Regions from separate parts of the Homo sapiens genome. Here all the other regions are reported to be linked to region 4. The links are microRNA targets in miRTarBase. Many come from high-throughput screens and were not tested one by one. Region 4 holds a microRNA gene; each other region holds the end of a gene's coding sequence. Distances are from middle to middle.

What was found. The annotated mature microRNA hsa-miR-6787-5p reads UGGCGGGGGUAGAGCUGGCUGC and lies in region 4 at 3,357-3,378, opposite strand. An mRNA with a match to its seed (bases 2 to 7 or 8) in the 3' UTR can be bound and repressed. Matches are read on the target gene's strand: a 7mer-m8 pairs with bases 2 to 8, a 7mer-A1 pairs with bases 2 to 7 and ends in A, and an 8mer does both.
Region 1: miRTarBase lists AFG1L as a target of hsa-miR-6787-5p. Seed matches in the 3' UTR shown: 7mer-m8 at 3,792-3,798.
Region 2: the mRNA of UNK is a reported target of hsa-miR-6787-5p. Seed matches in the 3' UTR shown: 7mer-m8 at 2,727-2,733.
Region 3: miRTarBase lists EVI5L as a target of hsa-miR-6787-5p. Seed matches in the 3' UTR shown: 7mer-A1 at 2,870-2,876.
Region 5: the mRNA of ATL2 is a reported target of hsa-miR-6787-5p. Seed matches in the 3' UTR shown: 7mer-m8 at 3,316-3,322.

Annotation. Positions count from the first base shown.
Region 1 is chr6:108,520,971-108,527,107 of GRCh38, reverse strand. AFG1L (AFG1 like ATPase) reads right to left here. Exons shown (of 13, transcript NM_145315.5): 13 at 1,107-4,811. The coding sequence ends at 4,683. Among named protein-coding and RNA genes, the nearest start is that of FOXO3, 37 kb to the left of the region's middle.
Region 2 is chr17:75,823,937-75,827,936 of GRCh38, reverse strand. UNK (unk zinc finger) reads right to left here. Exons shown (of 16, transcript NM_001080419.3): 16 at 2,138-3,675. The coding sequence ends at 3,520. It overlaps UNC13D (unc-13 homolog D), which reads left to right. Exons shown (of 32, transcript NM_199242.3): 32 at 1-712. Among named protein-coding and RNA genes, the nearest start is that of UNC13D, 18 kb to the left of the region's middle.
Region 3 is chr19:7,861,636-7,867,772 of GRCh38, reverse strand. It overlaps EVI5L (ecotropic viral integration site 5 like), which reads right to left. Exons shown (of 20, transcript NM_001159944.3): 15 at 5,755-5,895; 16 at 5,496-5,651; 17 at 5,239-5,385; 18 at 4,706-4,801; 19 at 4,493-4,588; 20 at 2,797-4,349. The coding sequence ends at 4,071. Among named protein-coding and RNA genes, the nearest start is that of PRR36, 9.7 kb to the left of the region's middle. RefSeq lists silencers at 1,016-1,310, 5,019-5,288 and enhancers at 3,308-4,016, 5,111-5,748, 5,749-6,137.
Region 4 is chr17:82,234,051-82,240,050 of GRCh38, reverse strand. MIR6787 (microRNA 6787) reads right to left here and starts at 3,383; the gene lies at 3,323-3,383. It overlaps SLC16A3 (solute carrier family 16 member 3), which reads right to left. Exons shown (of 5, transcript NM_004207.4): 2 at 3,820-4,068; 3 at 3,179-3,322; 4 at 2,158-2,913; 5 at 1-1,349. The coding sequence starts at 4,042. The coding sequence ends at 1,075. It also overlaps a transcript of CSNK1D not described here. RefSeq lists enhancers at 480-1,250, 2,021-2,792, 3,617-3,806.
Region 5 is chr2:38,291,685-38,297,821 of GRCh38, forward strand. ATL2 (atlastin GTPase 2) reads right to left here. Exons shown (of 13, transcript NM_001135673.4): 13 at 2,270-4,429. The coding sequence ends at 4,310. Among named protein-coding and RNA genes, the nearest start is that of ATL2, 83 kb to the right of the region's middle.

The DNA.
Region 1 (6,137 bases), not on the chromosome of region 4:
CTCTCTGTGCGTACCGGCTGTGTAGTCACAGGCAAGAGCTCCACGGCCTGCCTGATTGGCGGTGATCAACCCTGCTGCACCTTAGAATCTTACAAGGAACATTAACAAGTGCTGATGCTGGGGCCCCACATCTGACCCACCATACCTGACCCTGGATGTGGACCTAGGCCTAGGAATGTGTAGCCTTGAGAACCACTGGCCTTTTTTTTTTCTCCTGTCAGTTCATCCTACTGACCACAAGATGGTGCCCTCTTTCTGGGAAATCTTTGATGTTCACCAAACAAGCAACAATTCATTTTCTGTATTAATCCTGAAAACATGGATTTGAATTTAACAATCTTCTCCAGCATCTCATTAAGCCAGACCCGTGTGCTCTTGGTGTCTAGCCATTTAATGCGTATCTTTTCCCTTCTGTTAGAAACCAGTGGGTTGGAATGTGTCTTCTGTTTTGCATTCCTCAAAAGGCTATAACACAAAGCAGAAAGTAGGATTTATGATCATAATCATTAGTATCAATAACAACTGATGTTCGTTTAATCCTTTGCCATTTGCAAAGCGCTTTTCACCAACAATCCTCATAGTAACTCTATGAAATGGGCATTATGATTCCCATTTATAAGATGACACAACTGAGGCTCAGAGCACTATCTTGGTCGAGGTCACAAAACAATAATTAGCAGAACTGAATTTTCCAATGCCAGATCTCAAGCCCTTTCCACTGCATCATTAGAGACCAGCAATCAACCACCGGGAACCCAGAAAGTACAGCCCTGAGACAGGAAAATTCTCGGGACGACATCCAGAAAGCCCCCTAGGCAAGCAGGTAAGACAGACTGATGGCTCCATGCAGCACAGACGAAAGGTCAGTGGACAGGCATGTTTGACTGGACCGAATGACCAGCTAGGGCAACAGATGTGAGGGTCCTAGTGAGCTGCTGGACTGAGTCAGTAGACACTCGACAAGAGGGCAGATTTTAACATTTGTAATTTTCTGTTCCAGAAAAATGAACTGCTATATGCCAATAGGGAACATTCATCTTAATTCTGACTGTAAAAGAAGTTATAAACTCATTTCCAAAGAAAATCCTTTCCTACCAGCAAGTGACTTCTTTTGAGATTAGTAAATCTAATAAAGGTAACTTACAGACTTGCTGCAAGACAGATTCCCGTAACTGATCAAGAACCCAAATGTCAGGGACCCAGGCGCCCAATCCTTCTGCATGTTTTTAATCTCAGATAAAGCAGCCGTCAAGTGTAGGTTCAAGTTACTTGGACCAGCAATACTGTTTTCAGGACAGAGGCAATGAAATGGAAAATTTAATACGTTAGCACTTTGCTAATTTTATTGACTTCGGTTATATCTTAGCAATTCATTAATCTGTTTTAGCTGTTTTCTGTGTCTCAGCTTCCCTGTCTATAAAATGATTATAATGGCACCTATCTCATAAGACTGTTATATGGATCAAAAGAGTTTATTTATAAAGCACATAGAACCATGCCCAGGACACAGAAAACATCATGTGTTTCTTAAATAAATAAATGGATATAAGCACATCCACTTATTTTACAAGTGAAATTTTAATTTTTTTCAATATTCCAACTAATTTTAAAATTATGTCATTTGCACACTTATAAGTACAGGAAATATACTTTAAGAAGATAAAAGTATTGCCTTATTATTAAAATTTGAAGTCCCACTGAAAATGCATAAATTTGATTAAAATAATACTACAGTCTTTTTGGCCTCAGAAATAGGTTAAAAATTACTTAAGTCCATCCTGTTTTTCATCTCAGGATTAGTGATATCAGCAAATAAGCTCATACACTGCCTAAAGAAATATGAGAAGTGATAAGATTTTTCTTTTTCTTCTCTAAAGAAAGTTTTCCTTTTTCTCCGCTTGACCTCTGTTAAGTCTGGGAACTAGTCATCAGTTTGGAGAGCACCCTTGGCACATGATGTTTTCTCCTGACTCTAAAGACATCCCCCCGGTCTGTGTTTTGAATTGAGCAGGAGCTTTCCACAGCAGTACTCAGCTCAAACCTCCGTCTCAAAGTATACATTTAAAGCATTTCAAAAAAAGAGCATTTGCTGAGAGACTTCTATGGAGAAAGACTGGAATGCTGAGAATGTAATAGGGGCAGGGCTCAGAAGAAAGACATATAAAGTGAAATGTTGCTCTCCAATCTAGGGGTTGTTTTTCATGTTGGCATTACTTTTCTTTTAGTAGAGCTACCATACTGTTTCCTAGTGATGGCTATTCTTGAAGACTTGGGTTTTTTTCTTGCATGCTATTTTATGAAACCAGCTTTGGAGATTTCCAGCCACCATGGAACTCCCTCCCCTCCAGAGATCCAGCCAAAGCCTTCTAGCCCCACTTTCTGCATAAACCCTTCTCCCAGCTCAAAGAGCCTCTTCCACTGCAGCCAATCCCAGCAGGCCCCTGGAACTGGGGAAGGAGATTGCGGATTGGGGGCACAGAAGTGGGCACATGCTCCAGTTACTTAGGTGGAGACTGAGCTACAGTTTTTTTCTCAGGGTTTAAGTTCTTTCGTACCAAAATGACATTATAGGGAAGCTACACTGAGAATTACATAGGCTTCTATGCGTTTGACCAGCACCCCAACTAACATTACGTGATTGTTTCGATGGAAAAATGAAACTTTATTCCCAATATCTGACCTCAGATGAACTTTTATAACATAACTTGACAGGGGGACTCTTCTACATACACTCACACTCAGGGACAGGTCTGTCTATCGGTCATACTGTCCATCTATCTGTCTGTCCATTCACATGATTTTTTTAAAAATTAAGATACAGAATAATTACCAAAGGAATGTGAAAAGTAAAAAGCTAAGATCTAAAGAATAAAGTTAAACATTTTATATTCACTGAGTTCAAATCAATGGTTCTGTTGTGAATTTATCTTCAACTTCATTCACTGAGTTAAATGAATCAATTTTTAAAACAATCTCTTTTTTTTAAATAGTAAGAGTAAGAGACAGTGTGTTATAAAATATAGTATATGAGTTTTGTAGTTGTAAACTGTGAATCTCAGGTCAAGCTACTTAACTTTCCCAAGACTCAGTTTTCTTATTTTTAAACAGGGGTTATAATATTCACTTTCTAAGACTATTTTTTTTAACTGAGCTAATGTAAATATATAGCATTCAATCCAGCACAAAGTGGTTATTTCCCATCCTTTCTCCCTATTACGTAACCTCTTTGAAATTACTGTGTTTCACTTCAATAAAAATATCTTTAAACCACATTTTATTTACAGAAGGCTTGATTTAAACTCTTCTCTCGGCTTGGGTACTCATCCATCTACCTGCTTGCCTTAATTAGGTTAATATCTAAAAGAGACTATGTGATGGATTATTGACTAAGAAATTAAATAGGGCCATGCTGTGCCACACTACCCCTGCCAGGAGATGGCTAGAGTGGCCAAGATATAAAAAATAAAAATAATAATAAATAGAAAATAAATAGGTTCAAAGAGCTTACTTATGTTGACCATTGTATTCATTGGACTGACTCACCTATGCCTTACCTTCCCCCAAATGCTTAATTTTCACAAGATTTTGTGGATTTTATATTTTTTCTGTTTTTCACACTCATCCACAGCCGAAGATCCACTTTGTGACAATAGTTAGTAAAGCCAGGTTTTACTCAAAGAAGCAAAAGATGAGCTCAGTGAAGGACAAATCAGATTTCCTGTGAAGCAGGCTTGTCAGGCTTTCTTTCCTATTTCCTATTAGGTCCATCTCACGGCAGAGTTGGCGGCAAGGGCGGGGGCAGCATGCTGCAAGGAGAGCAAGTGTCTACAACAGTGAGAAGGAGCCTGCTGTCCACTGGGGTACGGCTGGCCTCATGTGAGCGGGAGTCTCCTCTGCTGTTGGAGTGCCTACGACTCTGACACCCACCCCCCCGCCCACACTCTCTCACTGGTCCCCATTCCTGGCTGCAGAGTTTGTAGCTCTGCCTGCAGATCTGCCTGTTGGCTGGAATTTGACACTTGCTCCTTATTTGATCCCATCATAATTTTCTATTTTTTTTTAGAAAACTTTGTGACCACTTGAGATCAAGTCCTGCCTACTAAACTTGATCTCAGGGTTAAAAACATATTCTTCCATTATGTAGAAATCTGAAGGCCTGGGAGATTTACTGTAATTCATAACCAAAAAAAAAAACCACATATAAGCCCATATTCTAAAATATTATCCCTTTTAGTTTATATCAGATTGGAAAACTGTCTTTGTTTTGAATTGAAACATAGGGCATTCTTCCCCCATTATAAAAGATGTATTTCTAACATGCCACCACCATGCAGCCAAAGCTTGAAGGTATCCAGACGTCTTGCATTTACTTGTGCATTCAAGGTTCATTCAGGTGGTTTAATGTGAAGCTAAAATGTCTGGTCCTACATTCATCTTCAGGAATGAGATGATTTTAATTTCATGGTGCAGAAATAAGGCCAAATAAGAAAAAGCAGACCTAAAAAATGTTAAGTGTTTAACTTACTAATCCACTAGATCCTTGAGAGCAATTTTAGATTAAAATGGTCCAGAGGACAAAGTGCATAATTAATGATGAGAAAATGATTCCTTCAAGTCCCACAATAAGGAGTTCTGCCTGCGTTAACCATTTGTCTAGAGTTTTATTTATGCAAAAGTGGCAGTTACTTCTTGGTTCTGTCTCCTTCATTCCAGTACTGTTCAGTCTGCATTTCCGTGAGTCGGGAAATTGTGCGCTGAAATGCAAAGATTTCCTCTTCTCCGGTAAACATGGAGAGTCCTTCTGCTGAATCCTGGTTATAAAACAAAGAAATTAAAATAAAGCTATCACAAATGAAAATTTACAGAACCTAAGTATAGGTTTAAAAAAACTTTTTAGGCTTACCGGTTTAGATTATGCCTTTTTTTATAACTTTTTTTTTCCATATACAATCTCTTAAATGAGACTAGAGAGTCAACCAATTTAAACTGATAGGCAGTAAACACATCAAATTATCAGAGAGAAAACTTAAAAGGGAAAACTTTCTCCAAAAGTGTACACCAGAAATAAGTAATGGCAAAAAAAAAACCAGTAGTTCTGAGAAGCTAGAAAGAGGCTGGTGTAGGCCTCCAGACAGGGTCCCAGTGCCTAAGGGGGAGGCCCTAAGGACAAACCTCTGGAGAGCGTTTTCCAATCCAACCAATGACTAAAGGAGAGCAAATGCAAATGAGCAGTGGGTCTGGGTTCTGGAGAATGTGCCTGGGATCTAAAAGCCAGGGCTGAAAGGCAGGGCTGTTTTTAGTCTTCAGCTGCTGGGACAACTGATCCCACCATCTAGGACCAAATTGGGAAACTCTGTCTCTGTGAGGCTGGTAACCCCAGACTGGTGATACCAACACAGACTCATGGCCACTAAGTGGGCTTGGAATTTTTCTCTTTCCTTAGGGGTTTGCTAGTATGCTTTTTCAGAGAAAAATTCTAGATTCCTAAGTCCATCTTCTCCACTGATCCATTGTGAACCTTCATGACCCTGAGATCACATTCCCTGATTTCTTCATGCATGATTGGCTCTGTCTGCTGAGCTTATTTTTTCTTGATCCTAGGGGAATTTGAGATAGGGTCTCACTCTGTCACCCAGGCTGGAGTGCAGTGGTGCCATCTTGCCTCACTGCAACCTCTGCCTTTTGGGTTCAAGTGATCTTCCTGCCTCAGCCTCCCCAGTAGCTAGGATTACAGGTGTGTGCCACCACACCCAGCTAATTTTTTTTATTTTATTTTTTATTTTTTGTAGAAATGGGTGTTTCACCATGTTGCCCAGGCTGGTCTTGAACTCCTGAGCTCAAAGCAGTCTGCCCACCTCGGCCTCCCAAAGTGCTAGGATTGTAGGAATGACCCATTGCACCAGCCTAGGGGAAAAAAGTTTTAAGAGCCAATGATGTAAACTTTACCAACCTTTTGGCACCAGGGGCCAGTTTCGTGGAAGACAATTTTTCCATGGACCAGGGGCAGGGGGATGGTTTCAGGATGAAACTGTTCTAGGTTAGAGCTGAATGTTTATGTACATCCAAAATTCATATGCTGAAATCCTAACCCATAAGGTGATGGTATTGGAGGCGGAGCTTTTGGGAGATGATTAGGT
Region 2 (4,000 bases), 6.4 Mb from region 4:
CCCGGTGGGGACTTGCAAGGGCTTTCCTGTAGGGTCTGGGGCTTCCCCGCCACATCGCGGCCCTCCAGCCTGGCCTAACACTTGGGGAGCCCCAGCATGCGGAGTGCCCAGAGTGCAGACCTCCCCTGCCTCCCATGGTGATGGGGGCTCAGCAGCGACATCTCTACTCCCGCCTCCCTGCCTCCAGCCCTGGCTGCAATGTCTCTACCACATCCCAGCACCAGGGGGAGCAAACCCTGCCCCTGCCCGCCTCTCAGAAAAGCTGCTGTGGTGGGCAGGGGATTGGGCCATCTGTCTCCTGGCCCTGGCCCATCTGCCTCCTGGCCTTCCTGTTCCAGCCACTGGGGTGGGGGCCAGGTTCACTGGGACCAGGGCTACAGGCACAGAGTCTCCTGGAAAAGGGAGAGGGGACCCTGCCAAAGATGAGGCTCCAGCTGCCCTGGGGGGAGGGTGGTGGCCATTACTAGAGGGGGCCTGGGTCCTCTCCCCAGGGGCTGCCAGCATCCAGGCCAGGAAGCCTGGAGCCAAGAACCTTCTGGCTCTGAGGGAGCAAGAGCTGGCAGGCGGCAGGGCTGGCACAGACAGACGGAAGCAGAAAGGACAGTTTGGCTGCTGTGTCTGCTGCGCACGCCCCCTCCCCGGACAGCACCTGCCACCTAGAAACTTTCTTAGCAAAAAAATTAATAAAAACAAATCCATTGTCCTCTTAAAATATGCCTTTGGCCTACAGTGGGGCCTGGAATGCGAGCCAGGCCGGGTAGCTTCCTCCCCAGCCCTCAGGGGACTTTGAGCTACCGCCACCTTGGGGTAGCTACAAAGCAGGGGGGTAGGTGTGGAAATAACTGAGGCAGAGGCAGGGCTAGGGTGATTTTTGGCCGTGGGCTTTGAATAAATTGCTTTACCAGGCATACCAGTTCCTGTGGTGACACCCAGGACAGGGACCCGTTCCTCGGGGGAGCACAGTGAGCAGGGGCCTCCCAGGGGTGCAGGTTGAGGCTGAGGGGCTGCTCTTGAGACAGTAGGGCGTAGAGGAGCTGGGTCCCTCCCCTGCCTGGGGGGTGTCAGAACCTGAGGCCTGGTCATCACGTCATCCTAGCTGTGTGACCCTGGTTCCATGTCGGAACCTCTGAGTCTGCACAAAATGAGGACAGGAGTCGAGGTTAGCTGAGATGACATCCAAGGCCCGAGACCATGCAAAGAGGATCCCACCAGGGTGTTTTCTCACCCCCCACCGCACAGCCTAGTTGAGGAGGTGGGAGGGAGGACGTACCTCTTAGGCCTCAGCCCCTCATCCCTCAGGGGCAGGGTAGGGTGAAGAAGGCAGAAGGCAGGACTTCCTCTGGGTCCTACCAGCAAATCATCCCAATGGGAAGGCACTGGGTTTTTTGTTTTTGTGATGGAGTCTCACTCTGTCGCCCAGCTGGAGTGCAATGGGGCAATCTCAGCTCACTGCAACCTCTGCGTCCCGGGTTCAAAGGATCCTCCTGCCTCAGCCTCCTGAGTAGCTGGAACTACAGGCATGTGCCACCACACCTGGCTAATTTTTGTATTTTTTTTTTTTTTAGTAGAGACGGGGTTTCACCATTTTGGCCAGGCTGGTCTCGAACTCCTGACCTCAAGTGATCTGCCCGCCTCGGCCTGTTTTTGTTTTTGAGATGGGATCTCACTCTGTCACCCAAGCTGGAGGCAGCTGTGCAATCATGGCTCACTGCCGCCTCGACCTCCTGGGCTCAAGTGATCCTCCCACCTCAGCCTCCCTAGTAGCTGGGACCACAGGCATGCGCCACCATGCCCAGTTGGGAAGACACTGTTCCTCTGAGAAACAGTTACGGGCCCTATTGCCAGTCACCGCTGACCACACAGCCCTAAAGAGTCCTAGGGCCTGGGGGGCCTCTGTGTCCAAGGCTAAGGGTCCCTGTGTCATCAACCGCTAGGCCTAGGTCGGAGAGCACTTGAACTGTCTTGGGGCCTGATGGGCCCAGGAAGTTTCCAGCCCTCTCCAGCTGCCTTACCACAGCTCAGGGGTGTGGGCAGCAGCCGTTTCCATGGCTGAGGCAAGGCTCCTGGCCCACCTCATAGTTCAGAGGCCCTCTTTTGGGACCCACTCCCCCTCACCCCCATGTAAACAAGCTACCACTGCAAGTTCATATTTTATTTCCAATAGGTTTGGAGCTTTGTTGATTTTTGCATTTTTGTAAAAAAGGAAAAAGTTTTCACTTAATTCATTGAAAGCCCTTTCGTGCTGAGCCCAAGGGGGAGCCTGGGCCAGGACCAGACCCTCTCAGCCCTCTTGTTCCTACCGCAGACACCCGGTGCTGGGGGTGCGGCTGCTCCCCTCCGCCCACTCTGCCCTCCCGCCCCTGCTGCATCTCTCTCTGTACAGAACAATTTTTAAAATGGAAGCTAAGACACAATATACACTGGACAGGCACACACACACGCACACAGGCGTCCGCCCAGAACAGGGCGGGACACCAGCTGCACTCAGAGAGCACCAAGGAATGCAAACGGAGCCCCTCCGGGTAGGAGGGCAGGGCCTGGGCCCCCTTGGTCCTCAGTCCTCAGTCCGCACTCCTCCCCGCCAATTGCCCTGCTAGCTGCCAGAGAGGGGAGGGGGCAGGGAGAGCTGGGGGCAGCTGGTTGGGGGCGGTGGTCATAGAATGAGTACCAGCCTGGTAGGCGGCCCTGGGGCCAGGGAGGCTCTTGTGGGGAGTCCGGGGAGGGGCGGCGGGGGGAAGGACTGAGGGTGGACCCTCAGGAACCTGAGGGCTGGAACTCCTGGGCCTTGCCCCTCAAGGAGCTTCAAGGGCCCAGGTGTCAGGAGTGGGGCTGGCCCTGCAGCACTGGCCTCCAGCCCTTGCTGTTCTCCCCAAGACTAAATTAACATTTGGTAAACTTAGGAGCTAAGCCAGCTGAGACCCCCAGCACTCCCCCTCGGGCCTCCCTGAGGCCCTCACAGCTGGGGGCCAGGCCTGCTCTGGGGGACCCACGTCTTCCACACTCCACCCTTGCCCTGGCAAGGAGGTAGGGGGAGCAGGGCCTGCCCTGAGGGCTTCTCCCTTCCCCTTAGTGCCTTCCAGTCCCACCCTTCCCTGCTCAGGCCCCAGGAAGAAGTTAAAAATAGTTAGTTCCTACATTAAAAAAGAGACAGAACCAGATTCTCTGCCAAAAGGCCAGTGGGAGAAGAGGGGATGTCATCTCTGCAGTGGGAAGGGCAGGGAGTGGGTAGGGGAGGACTGCAAAATAGTTTCTTCTTTTAAAAAGTGCTTGGTAAGTCTTTTAAAGTGTGTGTCTATATCTATGTACAGATATACACACAGACACTGTCCACACCACCACGCATACCTGCACACATACGGAAATGTATACATATACATACATACGGAAATGTATACATATACATAATCATATACATATACATACATACATACACATATATATATATATTCATATATATATATATACTTTAAAAAGTCCTAGGTGAGAAGATCTGGGCCAGGCTGGGCCAGGCCTGCAGGGTCACGACTGGAGGGTGTGGGCCCGGCCAGGCTGGCAGATGGGGCACTCGCTGCCCTCAGCGCAGAGCTCACACAGCGCAGCGTGTTGGCACGGCAGCACTGCCCGCTTCTGTTCCTGACACTTAAGGCATTTCACCGACTGCATGTGGAACACGGCCTGCAGGGAAAGGGGCATCGTGGTCACCATCCATGGGTCTGGCCCCAAGTTGAGCGAGGAGTTCCCTTGATCCTCACTGCAGCCCCTTGGGATGGGAAAACTGAGGTACCGAGCTCAACAGTGTGCTCCCAGACCCCTGTTGGCAGGTGAGAGAGCAGGCTGAGTCCACCTCTGCATGGGGCATGGCCAGGCTGCCACAAGACCCACCCCTCAGAGAGGCTTCGCCCAGTCTCATTTGACCTTGTAATCCCCAGATGGGGAAAATGAGGCCCAGAAAGGGCTGGGACATGCCCAGGGCCACACCCGGGGGCTTGGCTGCCCGAGA
Region 3 (6,137 bases), not on the chromosome of region 4:
CAGGCGTGAGCCACCGCGCCTGGCCTGACACACTTTTCAAACTCGATGCGGGGAACTAGCACTCCTGGGGAACAGGTGGGAAGATTGGAGGGCACTGAGGCAAGGATGGGGGACCCCTTCCCATGGCCCTTCGGCTGGTGCAGGGTCCCGGGCCAACTGCCCTGGTAGGGGATTGCAGGAAGAAGTGGCCTCTCCCAGGTCTAGGTGGGAGATGGGGGAGTCCTCACACTGCACCCTGTCTCCAAGTGTCCTTACACAAGTGCCACTTGGTGCATCCCACCCCCATGGCATCCTTGCCCTAACCCCTTCCTCAGGCGTCCTTATCAGATTCCCAAACATCTTCACAGGCCCCCTCCAATCAGAGTTTCCTGCCCTTCCTCCCCCAATGAACCCTAACCCTAACCCCCAGCTCTGGAGCCTCTCAAACCCTAGCCAGTCTCTCCCTGTTCCCAGTGCCCCTGCAGAGAGCTCCCCTGCTAGGCCTTTCCTCCCCCGGGTCTCCTGCATGGCACCAAGAATGATGGTGACATCCCCAAGTGGGTAAGAAGACAGAGTAGGATCTGGCCTTGGGCCCTCAGCCCTGCCTCTGCCCCTGGACCCAGTACCCTCACACCATCCTGTGACCAGGTTCCTGTCAGTCACAGACCAGCAAGTCCTGCCTGTCCCCATCCCAGACAAGGCACCTCCTAGCCTGGGGTCTGAGGAGAAATGGGCTCTGGCCTGGAGGGGCACTGCCACCTGCACCCCTGGGAGGTGGAGGAGGAGGACGCCAGCACAGTCCTTCGGTCAGAGTTTTGTGGCAAACCATAGAGGTGTCCTCTCAAGCTGGGCCCTGGTGGGGTTGGGGACCTGGGTGTCTTTGTTTCCAGACTCTGGGACAAGCCCAAGGCCGACTCCTGACATGCTGGGGAGCTGGGGCTCAAGGCCAGCTGCCGGGAAGGACAGGGCAGAACCTCAGACAATTCCTCTGCGGTCCTGCCCTGACCTGGGCAGCCAGCGGGGGTGGAATTACCATGGAAGCAGGAGGCACGGACAGTGACTGTGAGGGTCCCCAGGGTTACATCTGCACCATGTGTGGCCAGGAGAGCTGTGGCATGTGATACGACAGTACATGGGACTTGGCTGTCTCAGTACACAAGCAGTGTCATGTCCTTTGCTTGGCTGTGAGGCATGGGGGTAGGGAGCACTTTGTGGACCCACACTGGGTGCAGAGGGCAGGTCCTGGCTAGCATCTGCCTGAACCCAATTATGTTTCTGCCTCTAGGGGCTGCGCACCGTGTCTCCCGCCTGTAATCCCAGCACTTTGGGAGGCCGAGGAGGGCAGATCACCTGAGGTCAGGAGTTTGAGACCAGCCTGGCCAATATGGTGAAACCCAGTCTCTACTTAAAAAAAAAAATACAAAAATTGGGCCGGGCACAGTGGCTCATGCCTGTAATCCCAGCACTTTGGGAGGCGGGTGGATCACCTGAGGTCAGGGGTTCAAAACTATCCTGGCCAACATGGTGAAACCCCATCTTTACTAAAAATAATACAAAATTAGCCAGGTGTGGTGGCACATGTCTGTAATCCCAGCTACTTGGGAGGGTGAAGCAGGAGAATTGCTTGAACCTGGGAGGCAGAGGTTGCAGTGAGCCAAAATCGCACCATCGCACTCCAGCCTGGGCAACAAGAGTGAAACTCCGTCTAAAAAAAAAAAAATTAGCCAGATGTGGTGGCAGGCGCCGGTAGTCCCAGCTACTCAGGAGGCTGAGGCAGGAGAATCACTTGAAACCAGCAGGCAGAGGTTGCAGTTAGCCGAGATCGTGCCACTGCACTCCAGCCTGGGTGACAGAGTGAGACTCCCTCTCAAAAAACAAAACGAAACAAATTAGCCAGGCACGGTCGTAGGTGCCTACAGTTTCAGCTACTCTCGAGGCTGAGGCAGGGGAATCACTGGAACCCAGGAGATGGACGTTTCAGTGAGTCGACTGCCTTGAGTTCCTCTAGGAAGCTTTGCTTTGCCACTCCTGGCTCTGTCCTCCACCCCGCCACCCACCGCCACCCAGCAGCTGGGACTCTGCCTCAGCTCTGTGGGGAACCCCACAAAGGACTATTTCTGCCCCCTACTCACTGTCCTCCCTGCACTGGCCCCCTCACAGACTCTGTGGTCCATCTGATGGGGCTCTCTTACCTAAGCCCTCCATGGGCTCCCAATGGCCCCCAGTTCAAAGCCCAAACTCCCTCACCTGACGTAAGCAGTCCCTTCTTAGTCTGACCACGCCCAGGCTTTCCTGTTCTTCCTTCCTAGGTATGGTATGCCTCCTGTTGGTCTGATCTTTATGCTTTTACCCCTCGAAGAGGCCCTGACACCACCTCCCCCAGGAAGCCTTCCCTGATCTCCCTGCACATTTGTCTATTGAGCACCTACCACATTAGTGCAGGCTTCCCCCTGCCCAGTGCCTGTCTCCTCTGCTCCACTGGAGACCCCCTCAGAGCCAGGCACAGGGCAGAGTACCCCACATTACCCCTGGAGGCGTGAGCAGAATGAATGCAACCGGGTCCTGTGCTTCCTGAAGCCCAGCGATTCGGCATGCCTCTCTCCTTCAGGGGAGGCCCAAGTTGATTCACCCAGGTGGGAAATCATGCCCTGCCCCCAAACTGAATGCCCTTCTATCCTCTCCCACCCCCATTCTATGAGACTGTGGGGAGCTCCTAAGGGCAAGGACAGCCCCACCTTCCCTCAGCACGGTTTTTGGTCCCTGGGCTGGGCACCCACCGCTGCTTGTGATTCTCCTCCCAGCCCGCAGGCCAGTCCGTGACTGTGTAAATACACTTTATTTTCCATTTTTCCCGCCTGGGCGACATGTGAACAGGCAGTGTGCAAAATGGTGGCGGGCAGTGTAGGGGGCGTGTGGAGAGCCCCGTGGGTGCCTGCCCCGGTCCCCAGGCTTCGTAACACTGAAAAGTGGGCAGCTAGGAAGCGGGGACGGAGCAGGGGTCCCCACCCAGGAAGCGCCAGGGAGATTGCTTGTGACGCTACTCTACTGGAGGCTCCGGGAGCACCGAGGGGGGCAGCCCCCAGGGTCATGAGGCCCGGGGGGCCGGGGGAAGGGAGGAAGGGGCCTGGGGGGCATCGTTGGATTTTGGCACCGTTCTCAGCTCTGATTCAGCAGAGACAACGGGACCACCAGGAGGAAGTGAGGGGAGGCCGCTCGCTGGGAAGCTCCTGCCTGGGGGCCTGGCTCTGGCTGAGGGTGGGGCTGGAAACACATGAAGAAAGGGAAGTAGATGGAGACCGAGGACCCCTGTAGAGATACCCCTCCATCACTGGCCAGGATAGGGGGCGCGAGTGTCTCCCAGAGAAAGATGTGGGGCACTGGGGAGAGGGGTCTCTTCACTTCCTGGAAGCTGCTCTGGCCCCAGAGAAGCAGGGAGGCTTCCCGTTAGCCACTCAGTCCCCAGGCGCCCCGCACATAGTAGGGGGACTTTGGTTTCCGCTGCAGGGGCCACGGTGCCTGCGCCAGGCAGGAGAGGCCGGCCTGGCCATCTGTCCCCAGCGGCCTGACTCCCCTAGAGATGGCCAGGGGCTAGTCAAGGGTCACTTCATCCCGAGGAGTGTTGTGGGGTGCTGATGTCCAGCCCAGAGCTGGCGCTCTCCTTCCTCAGGCCTCGGCTACCTCCTGAGCACTTCCCAGCAATGTCGCCCCTGTCCCAGAAGGAAGCCTGCCAGGAGGTGGGAGCTGCCTGCTCATTCAGTGCTGGGACCTCTGGGTCGTCTGTCCCCTGCCCTCTGCCCTCCTGTTAAGAGAGCAGTCAGCCCCTCCAGGCACCCCTGGAACGCCAGAGGGCCCGGAGGGGTACAGACCAAGATGGGTAAACACTGCTGGGGATAGAGAGCCTGCCCCGGGGCCCTGAGGAGCCCAGGTCGGACCCTACCCTCTGCGCTGCCTCGCCGGGCCTCGCTTTAGGGGTGGCCGAGCCACAGAGGGCGCGTAGTTTGTCAAGTGCGGCAGGTGGGGAGCAGAACGCGGACTGCCCGGGCGCCCCCCGCGGCTGCGGCCTCCTGACTCCGGGCGCGCTGGGCATGGCCTCAGTTGTCCAGACCCTGGCTGTAGGGCGCGGCCAGCTCATCGGCGTCGCTGTCTGAGCTGCCCTCGCTGTCCTTGGCCGGCCGCTCCAGACGGCGGAAGAAGCGCGCATCGCGCGGGGACAGAGGGTACAATGCGTCCTGCAGGGCAGCGCCCACGCCTACGCCAAGTAGCTCCTCGTCCGACGACGGCAGCGAGTCCTCGTCCAAGTGCCGCGCCAGGCTCAGCCCATCGAAAGCCAGCGGGTCCTCGAAGGGCGGCGGGCCCTTCAGCAGCCGCACCTGGGGCGGGGGACCGGCGCTGCAGGCGTGGACCGGCCTTCTGCCCCGCCCTCCCAGCCGCATCCTCCGCAAGGCACCTGCGCTCGGCTCGTCCCAGGCCGACGACACCCAGGCCTGTCCCCGGCATCCCCGCGCCGGCTCACCTCGGCCTTCAGCTCCTCGATCTGGTCCTTGAGCTCGCGGATGTACTGCGATGAGTCCGAGTGGTTCAGCTGGCCCTGGATGCGGCCTTCCTCCCTCTGCGGGGTGCGCCAGGTCACGCGGGGCCAGTGCCATGCTGGGCCTGGGGTCCGGCCCCGCTCCTGCCCCGGGCCCTGCCCCCGCCCCCGCCCCCCGACCCCGGCCCCGCCGATCACCTGGATCTCCAGCTCGGCAATGCGCTGCCGCATCTCGGCCACCGCAGCCATGCTGTCCGCCTCCCGCAGTCGCACAGCCATCACCTCCTCCTTGCTCTGGGGTCGGGGGATTGGGGGGAAAGGAGGGCGGGTCAGGGGGCGCGGCGCATCAGGGGGCGGGACCGCGGGCAGGGGCGAATGAGGAGGCGGGGCCGCGGGCGGAGGCGGGTCAGGAGGCAGGACCGCGGGCAGGGGCGGGACCGCGGGCAAGGGAGGTGCGGGCGGGGGCGGGTCAGGAGGCGTGGCCGCGGGCGGGGGCGGATCAGGAGGCGGGACCGCGGGGGGGGGTGGTCAGGAGGCGGGGCCGGATCAGGAGGCGGGGTCGCGGGCAGGAGCAGGTCAGGAGGCGGGGCCGCGGGCGGGGGCGGGAGGACCGCGGGCAGGGGCAGATCGGGAGGCAGGACGCCGGCAGAGGCGGATTGGGGGCGGGGCCTCATGTAGGGGCGCGTCCGGGGGCGGTGCCACGGGCAGGGCGGGGCCGCGGGGGTCTGCACCTTGCACTCGGCCTCGGCCTGCTTGCGGCGGCTTTCGCTGAGCTGCGTCTGCAGCCCCTTGTTCTGTGCAGCCAGGTACTGCAGCTTCTCCTGCAGCGCCGCGCGCTCCGCCTCCACGCGGTTCAGAAGGTTGCGGTGGATGTGGTCCTGGGATAGGGAGGAAGGGAGGACGGAGGACGGCGGCGGTCAGGGCCTAACTCAGGGGCTGGCCACGGACACCACGCCCCTTCCCCAACGAGCAGGCCCCCCGAGTCCACCTGCGTCTCAAGTTCCACCACGCGCTGCCGCAGCTCGCGGCCCTCGGCCAGGGCCTGGGCCTCGCGCAGACGCACGCTCATCAGCTCGTCCTGCAGCTCGCCCACGACCAGCTTCCGTGGGGACTCCTTCCAGCGGCCGCCGCGGGCCAGATGGGCCTGGGGGGTGAAGCCGAGAAGCCGGCGGTCAGCCTCCGCCCAAGAACCCCGAGGGGATGGCCCTAGGGGGCGCTCTGCCCGCCGGCGCCCACCCGGCCCTCACCTGCCAGGTGTCCGAGAGCTCCTGCAGCTGCAGTTTAAGCTCTCGCGTCGAGGCCACCGCCTGGCCTTCCCGCACCTTGAGCGCCTTCAGCTCCTCCTGCAGCTGCGCCACATTGTTCTCGTCGGGCAGCGAGCTGTTCCTCTGCGGGAAGAGTGGGGTCAGGGCCTGGGGGAGCAGCGCAGCCGCATGGCCCTTCCTGCAGGACAAACGCCCCCAGCCACGTTTCCTCCTGAGCTCTGCCTTGGGCGGCTCAGATGGGGGAGGGCGACCCCCTTGACAAGGCCCACGGGGAGCGGACTCGCCTGTGGAACCCGGTTGGAGTTCCTCAGCTATAAAATGGGTGTAGTAACAGCACCTACTCTCACAGGGTGTCCTAGGGCAAC
Region 4 (6,000 bases):
ATGGCATCTCTCCGGCTGCACGCGGCCCGCCAGGGCACCCGCTGCCGTCCCCAGCGCCCACGACGCACCTACTGAGGGCCCCGGCGGCCTCTGACCGGGCTCCCAGCCACGCAGGCCACTGCTGGCCACGAGGGCAGGTGGGTGTTAGGTGTCCAGGACAAGCCCAAGCGCTGGGCCGGGCTGGATGGAGGACAGGGTGCAAAGACCAGCCCTGGGCACTGACCACACCACGCACACTGCCAGCCAGGCAGAGGGGCGAAAAAGGGAAGGCAGGAGGGTCCTGTTTCTTAAACACAGCAGTGAATAAAGTGGCTTGTTCCACCTCAGCTCCCATCTAACCACCACGTAGGGGCTCCCTGGCACATTTCAGAGGCCACCCTGGCACAGCGGCCTCCAGGCACCTGCCCCGCAGCCCCCTCCATGCAGCGCCTGCCCCTGCTACGAATGCTATGCCGCTGCAGGGAAAGCTGGCGAGGACAGAGCCACGGTAGGAACAGCCAGGCCATCAGCAGACGTGCGAGTCAGGACACAGGCCACACAGCAAAACCACATACTCCTAGGAAACCGTTGGTCCTAACACTCCACCCACACGCAGGTTTATTTCCATCTTCCAGGGGTGGAAAGAGCTGTCCCCAAGACACTCAAGAGGGGTGGGCACAGGCCCCATGTGAGCCCAGGGTAGGACGGGCTGGAGAGGGCCCCACGCAGCACCTGCCCTGCCAGCCTGTCTGCGGCCCACCCACCCTCCCATTAAAGTCACGTTGTCTCGAAGCATGGGTTTCCAGGTCCTTGAGCATAGCAGTGGCCGCAGGCCACCTGGGAGCAGCAGGCGGGGCCCCTGGTGAGGATGCCTTGTAACCTTGCGGCTTGGCTTCACCGCAGATCCACTCTGGAATGACACGGTTCCCACCCCGCCACCTTCCCCCTCAAAACACTGATCGGGCGACGATCCGCTGGGCCGGCAGCTGGAGCCCAGCCGTGGCCCTGCCTGAGCCAGTCCAGTTTGTAAAATAAATAGCAAGCGTTGCCGGCTTCTGTACCTCCTCCCTGTGCCTGCCGGCCCCGCCCAGCCACTCAGACACTTGTTTCCGGGGTGTGAACCACCTCCCCGTTTTTCTCAGGCTCAGCCTTCAGGAAATGCTCCACCTCCCGCAAGTCCACCCCCGAGTCTGCAGGAGGCTTGTGGAGCTTCTCCTCCTCCGCGGCCGCCACCTCAGGCTGTGGCTCTTTGGGCTTCTTCCTAATGCAGAAGAAGTTGCCCAGCAGCAAAATCAGGGAGGAGGTGAGCACCTCGGCCCCCGCCAGGATGAACACGTACATGTAGACGTGGGTCGCATCCAGGAGTTTGCCTGCGGGAAGACCCCGTCAGTCCCAGCCGCTCATGCGGGCTGCCCCCAGGGCCCACGGCTCCACCCAAGCCTGTGTCTCGGTGTCTCAGCACGCAAGGGTCACCCTGTCTGCCTCTGAGCTTGTGGGGCTGGGAGGTGTTCTCTCCCCTCCATGTGTTTCAGCTGGGGGCATCCTCCCTCCTCCTCAGGGGAACCAAGACTTAAGAGGCTAAAAATAGCAATGGCTTTGTGGAGTTTGGGTTTCGGTTGGTGGCAGGAGTCACGCTGGTCCCCACGGAGTCCCCCTGAGGCTTCCAGTCGGCAGCCCCAGAAGCCCTACTGTGTTCAGTACCAGCCCTGTGCCCTGGCCACCGCGGACTCCAAGACATGAGCCCTCCCCAAGCCCAGGACCCCCTCGCCAGGCAGGCGGAGCCTGGGCAAGGCTGCTCCAGTCAGAACTTAATTTCCCTCACGTGTTAGCTCAGTCATCCTTCAAAAAGGAGAGGCCCCAAAATGCAAAAGCCGGCTGTTGGGTTGCCTGGAGCTGCCGCGTGGTGCCCAGGCAGAGCCTGGAGGAGCTGCCCCCCCCCGGGCCCAGCCCCTAGCCACCCTGCCTGTCTGGACACACTGTGCCGGACGGAGCACCCCACTCCTAATGGAGACCCGCTAGCCCCAGCAGAATCAGGGTTGGTCCAGCACAGTGCACCCCCTCCAGCTCTGAGTCCCACACTGCGGGTGGCTGCCGAGGGGTGCGCGTCCCCCCCCTCGCAAAGCGGGCGTCTGACGGGAAGGGCAGGTGTGGGGAACTGCCTGGGGGCGCAGCGCTCACCTCCCGAAGGGGGCCCGACGAGCACGGCCACCGCCTCCATCAGCAGCACCAGGCCAATGGCACTGGAGAACTTGTGGGTGCCCACGATGGCCATGAGCACCTCGAACTGCAGGGCCCCCACCATGCCGTAGGAGATGCCAAAGAAGATGCAGAAGACCACGAGGCCGCCGTAGTCGCCCGCCGTAGAACCCGCCAGGTCCGCGAGGCCGTTGAAGAACATGGAGAAGCTGAAGAGGTAGACGGAGTAGGGCCGCACCTTCCCAAGCCCCGCCACGAAGCCCGCGGCCGGCCGCGCGAAGATGTCAATGAAGCCCAGGATGGTGAGCAGGAAGGCGGCCTTGGTGTCGGGCACGCCCAGGTCCTTGGCGTAGCTCACCACGAACACGGGCGGGACGAAGAGCCCCAGCACCATGACCGAGGCGGCCACGGCGTAAAGCACAAAGCCGCGGTCCCGGAAGACGCTCAGGTCTAGCAGGCGCCGGGAGGGTCGCGGCGGCCCCGAGCCCGGCTGGGCCGTGACCACCAGGGGCCTCATGAGTGCGGCACACACGCAGCAGTTGAGCAGCAGGCCGCCCAGGATGAGGAAGCCGCCCCGCCAGCCGTAGCGGTCCTGCAGCAGCTGCCCCAGCGGGCTCAGGGCACACAGGAAGACAGGGCTACCTGCTGCCGCCAGCCCGTTGGCCATGGGGCGCCGCTTGCTGAAGTAGCGGTTCAGCATGATGAGCGAGGGCTGGAAGTTGAGTGCCAAACCCAACCCTGGAGGAAAGGGAATGTGGTGAGAGCCCCCCAAGGCTGCCCCAAAGCCCGAGACCCTCATCTCTGCCCCCAGGTTCCCACAGGCTCAGGCTCCCAGGGTGCAGAGCCCCTGCCACCCACCCACTCGAGAGGGGGACAACGAGGTGGGGCCGGGACACCCCGCAGCCACCCGCCCTGCTGTCCTCCAGAGGCCTGGACCCAGGAGCAGAAGTGCACGGCCCCTGCCCCTCCTGGCACGTGCGGCCCACCGGCCGGCCCCACTCACCCGTGATGACCCCAGTGGTGAGGTAGACCTGGATGATGCTCCGGCAAAAGGACGCAGCCACCATGCCCAGCGACGCAAAGAGACCCCCCACAAGCATGACGGGCCGGCAGCCAAAGCGGTTCACGCACACACTGCAGAGCGGACCTGGAGAGGGCAGCAGCTGAGAGGGGCCGGGCCTGCAGCCAGCTCTACCCCCGCCAGCCGACTGAGCTCACAGCCTGGAGCCGGCCTCCCCTTCCCACACCACCCCTCCCCCCGCGGGGCACCAGGGGCACCCCGTGGGCAGGCTCCCCGAGCGCAGGCCATGATGACACGTGAGCGCCGCCTGCTGGGCCCCTTGGGTCCCTGCAGCTCAGGAACAGCCACCTTTTCAGGAACGGCTCTCAGGAGCCTGTCCTCTGAGACGGTCTATAAATACAGCCGACCCGTTTGGACAGGGGCCAGGATGGACTTCGCGCCCTGCCTGGGTTGGCCCCGTGGAGAGCATGTTGCTGCCCAGCAGGATCCTGGCCCCAAGGGCTTCCCTCCAGGGTTCCCTGGGGAGCAGGCGGAAGGCCCTGTTGCTGAGCCCAGCTACACGCGCCCAGCAGGATCCGCCAGCAGAGCCCCGGACAGGGGGCCCGGTGTGAGGCCACCCTCACCTGTCCCGTAGAGCATGGCCAGCAGGATGGAGGAGATCCAGGCTGTGTCGCTGTAGCCGATCCCAAACTCCTGTATGAGCTCCTTGAAGAAGACACTGACGGCCTTGGGGAAGGCGTAGGAGAAGCCAGTGATGACGAAACAGCCGAAGAGCACGGCCCAGCCCCAGCCGCCGTCAGGGGCCTTGACGCCTGTGGGGCCCTCGTCCACCACGGCCCCTCCCATGGCCAGGAGGGTTGGTTCCGCCTCACCTGAGAGAGAAAGCAGGCTGACTCAGGCTGCCCGGGTGACCATCCCAGCTGCAGCCTGGCAGGGGAGGGACACGAGCTGGGTGGCCCGGCAGCTCAGCTGAGGGGCAGCTGCCCGGCACCCACACTTGTGGCCCCCTGACCTGGTGTCTGGTGGAGGCAGGAGGGTTTGGAGGGAGGCTAGCAGCTGTGGGTCCCACTCCCTCTGCACTGCCTCCTGCACCCTCACAGCTGGCTCTAAAGGGCAGTGGCTTTTTTGGGCTCGGCCAGGACTCAGATTACCTCCTGGGACAAGCAGCCCCCGACAGGAACATCGACCTGGCCGTCATTTCTGCCCTGGCTCGCTCTGGCTGACCCGTGCTGGGCAGGGACCACGCACACCATGATTCTGGCAGCAGACGGCACCTCCGGTCCCCAGCACTGAGCTCGCCCCAGGACCTCTGGGGTTGGCATCCTCCAGGTCTCTCCCGGTCTAAATCTAGGTGGAGCGTGCCTTGCTCTGGCTCTCCTGCCCCCAAGGGCCCACTTTGGCTTCAGTGGAGCCCACCAGGAGCTTGCCCAAGAGGAGGCGGGCAGTCTCTGGCGGTGAGGGGCTGGGCCCCAGGCTGGAGGGGGCAGTTGGAAGCACAGGGGCTGCAGTATTAGAGTGGGTGGGGTGGGGAAGTGGGGGCAGAGCTGGCCCCTTGTCCCTGGATGCCCCCTTGCCTCCCACCGGCCCTCTTGCTCAGTGACTCCTCCAGTGAGATCTTGACTCACCCCACCTGTGCCTGGAGTGACCCATAGGCTGCAGCCTGAAATCAGGAGGGGCTAGGGAGGCTCCCATCCAGCCCACGAGAGCAAACCATGCCAGCCCCCACGATGTCTGAAGCTGGTGTCCCTTTCTAAACTCCAGGAGCTCAGCTCGTTTGAGTCAAGTTGGAACCCGAGGTCAGACTTCCATCTTCATGCCCCACCCCACCCAGAAGTCACCTTGTCCTCTCCTCACCAGGGAGCTGCAACCTGAGACCTTGGGTGGTCTAGTCCAACCGGCTCAGCCTCTCCCTGCTGGGACCGTGCTGTGAACCAGCGCCCTGGGAGGCAGCAGCAGGCCTGCTGTGCAAGCTCCACGCCCACCCACGACGCAATCTGTGGGGCTCCACCCCCACCCCCTTTCCTTGGGTTCCTCCTGCAAGCGTGTCCGCAGACCCCTGACCCGGTGGGTCCCCCGTGACGGCTCGTCTTTGCCTCTAAGGCAGACATGTAACTAAAGGCATGCACAAGGGCCAGGACCTTTGCTGGGAGAGTCTGAGCAGTTCCGTGCGTGGCTCCTCACTCCTCCTCCCGGGCCCTCCCCGCATCCAGCCTGCCTGCCTGTCCCCACCACAGGTGCTGTGCCCCCTGGAGTCCCTGCCTCAGAGGTCCGAGGATGGTTTTTAAGGGCTTCCTAAGTGTTCCACGAAGTCACTGTTACTGGGAAATGCTGCTTGACGAGGGGACCCAGGAGCCAGCTGTGGCTGTCTGGATGATGACAAGGCAGACACGGCCCACTGGAGCAGAACAGACCCCCCCACAGAGCCAGAGGTCCACCCCCCAACCTGCACTGGCTCTCTGGGACCCAGGCCTCGGAACCATTTCTGGGAAACCCGGGAGCAGCTTTTGCCTCTGCACCTGGACACCGGATGCCCCCACCACAGTGCCTGGGACAGGACAGAGTGTCGCACGCCTCAGGACACACCACCTTAGGACACACTGCCTGGGGTCACTGAGCAGCAGGGTAGGTCCCGCTCATACTGGTATTGTTTAAAAGGTCCCTAAGATGACAGTATACAGCAGGGTAACTACAAGATATTAAAAATATATGCACTGAGGCCGGGCGCGGTGGCTCACGCCTGTAATCCCAGCACTTTGGGGGGCCAAGGCGGGCGGATCACGAGGTCAGGAGATCGAGACCATCCT
Region 5 (6,137 bases), not on the chromosome of region 4:
GTGTTTGTTTACAAATATCAACGCCATAAAAAAGATTTAAAAGTCTGCCAGGATGTGGAAATTCTCATCACATCCTCCTAACATCTGTGAGGGGTAATATTATTCCTATTTTATAGATGAAGAAGCTGAGGCTCAACTGCTATATAAGCGTTAGCACAAATTCATGAAGCTTGCGTGGTGGAGCTAGAAACAAAGCTCAGTTTTAACCATAAGGTCATCTCCTTTGCTTAGAATTGAAATTTAAGCATTCTTCCAGATCTAGGTTGAGTTTTTAGGTAGTCTTCATGTTTTGTAACGGGCAAGTCTAAACCATGCCATTTTAGATGACCTCTCTTGTCAGGGGCTGCAGACCCATTTGGCCAGAATGAGTATGTTGTTTACTAATTACCATAAAAATTTGTCAGAAAGTTAGAGAACTCTTAAATAACAGCCCAAATGCCGGGGATGGGGTGGGGGTGGTCGGGGAGTAAGTTATGGACAAGCTTCAAGTACAGGTGGCCAAACAGTCAGAAGATGCAGCCTTAAAACAAGCAAAATTGAGGGCACGATTTTCTGTTCTTGTACCTGCTTCCCAAGCACCCTTTCTTCACATTTTATTTGATTCTCTCAACAATCCTATTATAGGAGGAAAACTGTCATAAAAAGAAAACTCTTAGCAGTTGTTTTAGTCCATTTTCACACTGCTGTAAAGACATACCCAAGACTGCGTAATTTATAAAAGGAGGTTTGACTCACAGTTCCACGACTGGGGAGGCCTCAGGAAACTTACAATCAAGGCTGAAGGCAAAGAGGCACGTCTTACGTGGCAGCAGGTGAGACAGATTGAATGAGTGAAGAGGGAAGAGCCCCTTATAAAACCACCAAATAGATCTCGTGAGAACTCACTATCACGAGAACAGCATGGGGGAAACTGCCCCCAACAATCCAATCATCTCCCACCAAGTTCCACCTGGTGATTATGGGGGTTATGGGGATTACAATTCAAGATGAGCTTTGAGTGGGGACACAGAGCCCAGCCATCTCAGCAATGATCCCAGGTCTATTGTTCTCTCCTTAAAACTCCACCTACCCTAAGAATCAAAGTAACCATTAAATAATTACATAATGACCTAGGAAAATATCCCATTACATGAAAAAAAAAAAAAAAACATCATGTACAGGATAATTCTATTTTTATGTAAAACAAAAAACAAGTATGTTTTATGCATATACAGACTTGTCAATAAGCAGAGGGAAGGTTTCAATAGCACACACCAAAGTAATGGTTCTCTCTCAGGTGTACAATCAAATGGACAGGAACATTTTCACTTTTTGCATCGATTCATTTTTTAGAGTGGTAATGTTATGGGTAATTTTCAGCTTGTTTCGGTATTAGCAAGATGTTACTTTCTCCACTTAGTGCCTCTAGGAATGCAGCCAAGACAGTCCTTGCATCTTGAGTTGGGAACATTACTTATCATTGTCTGAAGCTTCAAACAGATTCAAACTTCTGGAGGTGTGTAGTAGAGTCCTAAGTTGCAAGCCTGAGATGCCCAAGGTTCTTTTTGATGGTTTCCTATCTATCACACAGGACTGCCATGAGTATGGAGAGTACTAACATACGTATGGAGGTGCCTTATTGAGCTATGCAAAGGCTGTGACTTCCCTCCCCTAAGCCCTTTCATGTGTATCTCTAGGCAGTTTGGACCTATTCAGCTGATACATTTGGCTGCAGATTTCACGATCCTAAAAGGATATAAAAGTTGTATTTCACTGAGTACATTAAGGGCAGCTCAATTCCTCGGTCTAACTTCCAGCAAAATGTAAATCTGAAAGACAGGAGTTCCTAGGATCTAAGACTTCAGTAGAGAAGGTAAGGGAGCAATTCTCTGTGCTGCCTGGGAAACCCCCAATCTAGCTTTGACAGGAACCAATAACTGGAAGACTCCCCAAAGTCGCATTCTCTTTATGGCAGAGGCTCCCAACAGAATCCAAGTACAATAGTCATTTGATGAGTAATCTCTGGCCAAGTGAGAAGATGGCTACCAGATGCACAGCAACTCAAGCTAATTTTCATCCTCACTCCACGACTATCACACGAATGGAAAAAACCTGAGATGCGCAGATCCATTCTGGTCAAGTTAGAGGAAAGGAGGGAATCCAGGACATGAATGTTTAGGCTAAAGCTTAAAAGTGTGAAATGGACTTAAATCCTGTAGAGAATTGTCTTCTTTGAGTAAAGCACTCTTTTCTGACAAGAAATGTAAGAAAGCCAATGGTCTAGATTTTATAACTTTTTAAAAGTAAGCTGTCTTTAATTTCAGAAAATCTGCTATTATACAACAAATTATTTTTTCATTCATAAAAAACAGTCCACAGCATTCATAAAACAGGGTGGCAGAAGAAATAAAAAGACACTTTTCAGGTGGATTCTTTAAGAACAGATAAGTTAGCAATTTAATACAGATGAAAACAAATACAATCCATATAAAAACAGAATCTGAATGGGAGTGGGAGCGAAGATGTATCAACCAAAGTAAATTCAGAGTTTTCACACATGCAACTCAACACCTGCATTCTCTTCGCTTAAAAAGCAAACTAAGGGCCGGGCGCGGTGGCTCACGCCTGTAATCCCAACACTTTGGGAGGCCAAGGCAGGCGGATCACAAGGTCAGGCGATTGAGACCATCCTGGCTAAAACGGTGAAACCCCATCTCTACTTAAAATAGAAAACATTAGCCGGGAATGGTGGCACGCACCTGTAGTCCCAGCTACTCAGGAGGCTGAGGCGGGAGAATCACTTGAACCCAGGAGGTGGAGGTTGCAGTGAGCCAAGATCGCACCACTGCACTCCAGCCTGGGTGACAGAGAGAGACTCCGTCTCAAAAAAGAAACAAACAAAACTAGGTACTTTAATCGGTGTTCACAAAGAAGACCACAAAAGTACTGAAAAAATGCTAGCCTTACATATACCACCAAAAAAAAAAAAAGAGAGAGAAAGAAATTAACAATCCCCATCTACAACTAGGCTAATCATAGGTTTTCCCTTATAGAGACAGACACAGAAAAGTAACTTTTTACAAGCTTAGTTTTGAGGTACAATGCCTTAGAGCTCTCAACTGGGGTGTTTCCTGCTCATGCTCTTTTCACTATAAACAAATGTGGTTTATGAAGTGGAATACATACTTGAAAAATTCCTTAAAAAAGAATCACAAGTTTCATTTTATATATACAACAAATTTTTAATTATGTACTGAAAATAAATTACAGGAAATAACTTTAAAATGCAACAGAGGACAAAGTCACAATAAACATTCCCATTGAATTCCCTTGGTGGGCGGGGGGGGGGTGAGATTGCAGTGCTCAAGATAAATATCACAAATATATCAAAAACTTCAAATTGTCTATGCATTCACACACTGACATGAGCCACAAACATTCCTTTCACAGGGACAGTACTTATTTAGCCTACCACAGGACCAGATTTTGCCATAAACTACAAAACTTTTAATACAAAATCGTATTTATATATTTATAAGTCATATACATGCCCTATCTGTGATTTTAGAAAATAAAAGCTACACACTGTACAGACACTCTTAACTCATAGCTGTAGGCAACATTTTTGGATGGAATTTCTTCCCCAATAAAATTAATGGCATATTTTATATACATGAAGGCTAAACTGCAAAAAGACAGTTCAGTTTCCCAGATATGCATCTCCTTTTAGGGCAAGTTTATAAATTTAAAAAGGCAAGACAAATGTACACCTCAGAATTACTTTCTTAGCTACAAGAGTTGCCATGTAATTTCTGTGAAGTTTCTGATACATGCATTGATGTAATACTGGTATTGAAGGCAGTAAAGCAATATATACTTTTAATGTAGTGGCTCAATAAAGGCTTCATTGTCTTTCCAATCTGGTTCTTGAAACAGTGATTCATAAATTCTCTAAAAATTAAAATTTCAATGGGACACTGTGTTAAAGAGACTCTAAATAGATTTCTGAAAATATTTCCCTGAAATATCCTTTTACATAAGACAAATTCACTAACATTAGATTAAGTAAAAAGAAATAAAAGAGTTAAACATGGCACAAAGGTGCATGATTAACCAATGCTCCTCAGTCCATCTGCATGTCTTAGGAGCCATTAAAAGAATGCTTAAAACTAACAAACAATCTTCACACTCTGTGGCAGCCATCTGTGAAGCCAGTTACACTAAACTACTTCTACAGTTGATTGTAAACTTTGGTTTATTTTTATTTGAGTTCTCATTGTACAGCAAGCATGAAAAAAAAAGAGAGTGGAGTCCGTGAGGAGATGAACTGTCAGTCTGTCTTTAATCTGGCATGATGAGACACCTGGTCAGTCAGGCCTGCTTTGATAGAGTTTGTTACAGACTGCCTTATGTTTTCCTCCATCAAATTATCACCCAGGGGCTTCAATACCTGTGGTATGAGAAATGTGCAAAACAAACAAAAACATGAGGTAAAAAAAGAGTTACATATAAAAATAGATATAAAAATTCAATTCAAAGCAATGATGAAAATAACCAGGAATATGGGAAATAAAAAGATGCTTCTCTCAAAAAAACTTATGATGCTACTAGACATTTTATAATGCAACAAAAATTACTTTCCTCTTATTCAAACCATTTACAATTCCTATGAGATGGATGTGCAATTCCATACCCTATATGCAGCATCAAATCTGGTATGTATACAGCATTTATGCAGACCGGCCCAGACGGTCCTGCTTATTGTCCTACATGTGTAAGTGTGAACACTTCAGATAGAGAAAAAGGTTAAAAATACTGTCTAATTTTTCTTCTTGTTATTGTTGGATGACAGTCTCTGTCGCTGTGCTGATGAAAGAGCACGGTGAACCATTCGACGTCTAGTAACTTCAAACAGTTTGGAAAACACCTAAAACATGAAGTGATTTGTTAGGAGAATGAATCAGAGTGCCTCGAAGCTAAAGAGTTTAAGACTACAAGAATTTGAGACTGTAGGTTTCTCACCTTCCTGGGACTCCTCTGAAGCAAAAGAAAAGAGAAATGCAAAGAAATTTAGACAAGGTTTGTTGACACAGCACAGATCTCTGACTAGCTGATTACCTTACCTAAACTATACTGAAAATGATTTTATACACTTTAGATTCTTCCATTTAATTGTTTTGTAATAATGGTACCTCCAAAATCCTAGAATCAATGCTGTTTAAGAGATGAATATTTCTCAAAAGAAGATATTGTACAATTATTGAAAATTATATTGCAGAAAATGATCCAAAATTTTAAAATAGCTAATTTTTTCTTAAAAGTGAAGTTGCGATAGCTTTGCATCCATCTTCTATTAGAAGATATCAAAGAAACATCAAGTAGTGAGATTGAGATAAAAATTTAAATAGAATAAATATCCAAACATAAACTTCCCAATCGGATCTGAATAGAGCATTTCTCTAAAGAGTAAACACAAAATCCAAATTAATATAGTGGGTCACTTTATAAAATAACATCATTACAAGAAAAGTCAATATCCAATCAACTTTCTTCAAAAAAAATGGTCTGCTTCTTCGGTCTTCAAGTTTATAGCCAAAACAAACATGGACCTGCATATCCTAGATCTTCAAAATAAGCTCAATATTTCATGAGCCCAAAAATGGCATCTCAAATGCCTATTATAGCGTTCGTCATTAATAACCGTAGCTTTCATTCTGGTCCTTGACATGATGTTCAAGTATTTCACGAAGATCATCTTAATGACATCCATAAGCGGTCCACAGGTAATTCCAGCACACCGGAGGCAGATACACAAAATGGCTTTCCTTAGCAGATACTTGCAGGCAAGAGTTCACAGCCTGGGGCTTTGAATTCTGGTTCGAGGTAAAAGATTACGACGGAGCATGGTTCTCTGTTCATGGCGCTTTGCTTTACTAATTAATATTTCCAAAACACAAAGGTCAAAGTTTCCTTGGTAAGAAATCCCTACGGGATTGTTCCTCATAGTACATCAGGAAATCACTACCATCTTCATGGAAGGCAATGAAGACCTGTCTACCATCCAGCATTTCTCCTGCATTGCTGCTTGCCAATATTAGGAAGAAACTTCTTTTGCTTTCCGAAAGCACCACTTCCAAACTTCTTTTCCTTACCTTGAA